Regions from separate parts of the Homo sapiens genome. Here region 1 is linked to region 2. A link means that fine-mapping ties the variant in region 2 to the expression of a gene that starts in the linked region. Tissue or cell type: monocytes. Region 2 holds a variant in brackets; the other region holds the start of a gene. All regions are shown on one strand. Distances are between the middles of the regions.

What was found. PIP is the estimated chance that this variant, and not a neighbour inherited with it, causes the effect.
Region 1: NOTCH2 starts here. The variant in region 2 is fine-mapped to the expression of NOTCH2 in monocytes (TOPMed, PIP 0.92).

Annotation. Positions count from the first base shown.
Region 1 is chr1:120,068,385-120,071,070 of GRCh38, reverse strand. It overlaps NOTCH2 (notch receptor 2), which reads left to right and starts at 1,409. Exons shown (of 34, transcript NM_024408.4): 1 at 1,409-1,737. The coding sequence starts at 1,665. It overlaps LOC101929178 (a long non-coding RNA gene), which reads right to left and starts at 1,243. Exons shown (of 2, transcript XR_254374.4): 1 at 1,060-1,243.
Region 2 is chr1:120,130,030-120,132,715 of GRCh38, reverse strand. No RefSeq gene overlaps it. Among named protein-coding and RNA genes, the nearest start is that of SEC22B, 45 kb to the left of the region's middle. The variant C/T (reference allele first, on the strand shown) is at 1,312.

The sequences.
Region 1 (2,686 bases), 62 kb after region 2:
AACAATCAATTTTCTACAGAATTATCAGAGCAATCTTCCTTTCCATCAATCTCAACTCTGTTCAAAAACTTTCAATAGTTTTATGTGACCTAAGAGGTAGCTGCCTCCCCACCCTTTCAGCTTGCCATTCAAGGCTGCATAATTTGGTCCCAACCCCCTTTCCGTCCTTGACTCCTCTCACTGCTAACAGAGACAGAACTCATTTACTTACTCTTTTGACTGTACCTTTGCTTTCACGAGGGCTCTTTCCTGGAATGATATGTCCATACAACTATTGTTGCTGTTCTTACTTTTAGCTCTTTTCTTAGAAGCCCACTTGTACCCAGGTTTGATCACACCCCCTACTCTCCTGCCCTGGAAGTAACTACTATTCTGGTTATAGTCTCTTAATATCTATATCTATATATATGCATCCACAGATAATGTGTAGTATTGTCTTGAAAAAAATATACATAAATGGTATACTTTGTCTCCCTCTGTGATTAGTTTTTTCACTATCATTTAGTTTTTAAGATTTATCCCTATTGACATAAATAGCTATAGTCTTTTCAATTACTGTGTTGCATTTCATTTTATAAATATACCATACATTATTCATCCATTCCTCTAAGGGTGGGCATTTATGTTGTTTTCAAGGTTTTGCTATTACAGTGTTACAACGAATATCCTTAGCTTAGCTGGTCTCCTTGTCTTATACAAATTTTACTGACCTTTCAAGATCCTGCTTTCATCCCAGCTCCTCTGGGAAAGCCTTCCCTGAATCCCCCAGCCCACAGCGGCAAAGTCTTGGTACTCAAAGTTGCTTGTGCATCTTTGGTATCATCCCACTGCCAAGCACACAGCTACGCAAAGTAAGGCACTTAAGAAATATTCGCTACACGGATGAACAAATGAATGAATGAATGGGGCAGCACCACTCCGTGATGGCTCTATTCCTTTTTAATGGACTTTGGCGCCTTGGCCCACTTTCCTTCTTTGACAGCACTGGTCCTACTCCAGAGCATTCCTCTAGCTAGCAAAGCAGTGTGTGGATGTGTGGGTGTAGGTGGCGATACAGACCTCACTGGATGAGGACCGCCTCTCCCTGCAAGTTCACGATCCCGGCAAACTCCAGTGCTTGAAGTTCAGAGTCCTACCCCACCCCCCTCACCCCCACGCCCCTTCTGCACTGGTCAAGCCAGCGAGCCGCTGCAGCCCTGATCGAGTTAAGGCGCGGCGGCCCCCGGGGCCGCTGGAGAAGGATGCGGACGGGGCCAGTGACTCGTAGTAGATCCCTCCGCGCGGAGCTCGGGCCGGCGCTTCTTCCTGCGGGAAACCCCTGGGTGCCCAAGGCGGCGGGGCCGAGGCCGCGGCGACAGTGGGGCGGGGCTTGCGGTGGGAGGAGGCGGCTGAGGCGGAAGGACACACGAGGCTGCTTCGTTGCACACCCGAGAAAGTTTCAGCCAAACTTCGGGCGGCGGCTGAGGCGGCGGCCGAGGAGCGGCGGACTCGGGGCGCGGGGAGTCGAGGCATTTGCGCCTGGGCTTCGGAGCGTAGCGCCAGGGCCTGAGCCTTTGAAGCAGGAGGAGGGGAGGAGAGAGTGGGGCTCCTCTATCGGGACCCCCTCCCCATGTGGATCTGCCCAGGCGGCGGCGGCGGCGGCGGAGGAGGAGGCGACCGAGAAGATGCCCGCCCTGCGCCCCGCTCTGCTGTGGGCGCTGCTGGCGCTCTGGCTGTGCTGCGCGGCCCCCGCGCATGGTGAGTATCGGGCTGAGGGGCGCTGTCCGCGGCGCCCGGGGCTGCCACCTGGGGCGACCCTTCTCCCCCTCGGTCCTTCTCTGTGTGGGAAGGCCAGGCTCGGCCGCCGGCGCGGAGCGAGGCCACTCGCTGGGTTCCCAAGAGTTTGGACATCGCCGGGGGCCCCTCCCGTGGTGCCCCGCCAACCGCCGGGGTTCCCCGCCGCCTCTGCTCCCCGCGGCCCGGGACCCCTTACACGCCTCCTCGGCAGGAGGGAGGCCGGCAGCAAGTCTCAGAAACTCCTTTTTCGTAGTGCCAGGGTGCAGGGAGGTGGGCAGTTTTGCCCTTCAGGTTCCGCGTTTCTTGGGGTCGAGCGAGAGCCGACGGCGGGCCTCGGAGGGGCTGAGCGAAGGAATGCCAGATTCTGGCGTGGAGAGCGGGGGCAGGGCCGCCAAGCCAAACGGCCTGCACCGTCGCAGCCAGCCTCGCCTTTGCCAGGGGGCGGCACATGGGCCGGGTGTGTGGGCTTGGTTTGGATGGGGACGGGGTTTTGCGGCGCGCCTGAGTTTTGACACTCCAACCCCACCGAAAGTCCGGGGGAGCCGTGTGTGCTGCTCGCGTCTTTGAAAGGTGGAGGCAGGAGAAGTAGGGCAACTGGTGTGGCTGCATGCTGAGGCACATGATTTAAAAATCTCAACTGCTGTTATTCTTTCCGAGGCGCGGAGCTCTGCTGCTGTTTCAGGCTGTGTCCAGACCCAGGAATGTGGTGTGACGATCACCAATTCCTCCAACCTGGCAGCAGCATTTGCTGCTCCTTTGGCATGGCTGGGGGTGGGGCACGGGCGGGTGAGAAAAAGTGGATACGTTAATTCAAAGGGCTTCCTTAGAAAGCTTCTTTATGGTTGGATGTTTCTAACACGGTTGGACCAAGGAAAGGGAATCAAATCATATCTTCCCCATCCCACCCACA
Region 2 (2,686 bases):
TCATCTGCAAAATGAAGAGGTAGAATTTAGTAAGTTTGAGTCCCATCAATGCTTAAAATTCTATAATTCAGAAAGGCAGGCCATTCTACCTAGTTTCATCCCGCTTTAGCTCAGCCTTACTCAGATATGCTGGCCAGATGTTTCTAATCTTACACATAAAAGACTCTGGTATTCAGAGGCCAAAAGAAACTGGACAATTTAAGAAAAGTACTAAGCGGATGAGTTTTCCTTCTGTCTGATTCTTAAACAGCTACATGACTATTATTCAAACTTAAGAAAACAGGAAAAGAAAAGCAAGTATGCATATTTAGGTTTGAATCAACTATGTGAATATTTAGCCATGAAGAAAAGTGTGTTTTTTTGTGTGTGTTTTATTAATTATTATTTGTACAACAACCAAAAAGTAGACGTCAGCAGTTTTCAACTGTAACTATAACCTTGTACCATGTGGCTGTGGGCCGAAGTGCAGGAGGGAGTAGCTGGAAGGGAATCTGGCTAGAGCCTTCCCCTGCTCTGGAAAGCTCGTGGCTTTGTTTTTTTCACATTGCTACACCGAGACGGAGGAGAGGAGGATGTTTGGGTTTACAGGCCACCAGCCACTGTCAGCAAGTTTGTAGCCCCAGCTTCACTTCCCTGAAAGGGCGGGGGAGTTTCAGCTGCCCTGGCCTCCCTCCAGCAACTGAGCCACAGAGGATTCAAATACCCCATCAGTTGCAAGGCCCTGACTTTACCCAGCTGAAAACTGACTATCTCATCTGGGAAGGGTCAGTTAAAAAATGACAGAACTGCCTAAAGTAAACAAAGGGAACAACCACAACAGAAACTTTCTCTGCAGTGTTTCCTTATAATTACCGGCCCATCCCACCAGGGCTCTGGCTTGAGTCCCCATCCACTCTCCCTGTTGCCCCCACAGGACCTTGTTTGAGTAAGCCCTAGCTGACCTGAGGATCGCCTCCCTGTCTACATGCCTCTGTCCCGCCCTCTCCATGGAGGGGAGGGAGACTCCCGATTGCAGGAAGTTTTGAGAATGGAGTTTGAGGATTGTCAGGCAAAAAGACCCTCTAGAGCTCATTCATTAGGACCCCTAATAGATGAGTAAACAGCTTAAATGAAGTGCCTAAAGTTGAGAGCAAGTATGGGACAGAACTGGTTTTCTTCTTGCTAACCAAGTGCTCTTTCCAGTAATCATATACCGTTGTAAGGGACTAAAGATAAGGAAACTAACATTGAAGTTCTTTCTCCACCTTTTCATTCTAACCAAATCCTACTTTGTCGGACTTTTACACTTTATAGATAGGCTGGGCATGGTGG[C/T]TCACACCTGTAATCCCAGCACTTTGGGAGGTTGAGGTAAGTGGATGATGATGTCAGGAGTTCAAGACCAGCCTTGCCAATATGGTGAAACCCCATCTCTACTAAAAATAAAAACAAAAAAAAAATTAGCTGGGTGTGGTGGCGGGCGCCTGTAATCCCAGCTACTCAGGAGGCTGAGGCAGAGAATTGCTTGAACCCGGCAGGCGGATGTTGCAGTGAGCTGAGATCATGCCACTGCACTCCAGCCTGGCTGACAGAGCGAGACTCAATCTCAAAAAAACAAAAACAGAAAAACACGCTTTATAGATAAACATATTTTGAATTTAGACTTAAGGACAAGGACTAAATCTTACACTCTGTGTACCTTGTTCGTACTTCAGAGTTCATGAAGTGTGTTCATGGTCAGCAGCCAAGTAGAGTGGGTAGGACATTTGCTTCAGAGTTGAGCAAGCCTCAGAATCCCATCTCTGCACATTCTAGCTGTGTAAACTTGTAGGCAGATTACCTACTCTAAAACTTAGTTTCCACATTTGCAAAAGGGGAACAATAATAGCTCCACCTCATTATTTTGTCATGAGGATTTCATGAGATGATACATGTAATGCACATTGAAAAACTCAACAAATGTTAGAAATTGTAAATAGGTCTGGAAGGCATTTATCATTCCCATTTTACAGATGAGAAAATTAAAGCTCAGAGAGTTTAAGGGCTAGAGTCATACAATTGGTTAGTAAGATAGCTAGGATTTAGCTCAGCCTCCCAGCTCCATATCCACAGTACTTGCTGCCCCACCATTGAGTGTAGACAATTGGGGATGGCTCTAAGCTATGGGCCAAATATGTCTGTCCCTATCATCATGGAATGACATGTTATTTATTAAGCCCATATATGCTTGAGGTGCCAGGAAATGGATGCTTCTGGGGTGAGGTAGGCTCTTCATGTGCAGCCTTCATGTACAGATTCCAGCCAAGGAAATCAAGCCTGGCACTAATCCCTTGTCCAAGCCCAGAGACGCTGTGCCCACGGAGTAGGTCAGAAGTCCTTGAATATCCTCAGCTTTCCTTTCCTCTGGCAATGCTTCCTTGATGCCCTAAGAATATTTTGCTTACCCTGACATTAGAGCCCTCTTCACACTCCCAAGCTTTCTAGTATTTTGGGTGTGCATCTGATTCTCCTGTTGAAACTGGACTCCAAAGTGAAGTGCTCAAAATGGTACATAGAGGTATGAGAAAAACATATGTGAATACTTGCTTCTATTTATTTTTTAATCTAAAATATTAAGAAAATTAGGCTTTACTAATATTAAAATGTCACAGTAGAGTGTATGGAATTTATAGCAAACATGCAATTATTAGGCATGTATGCTGGTTTTCTT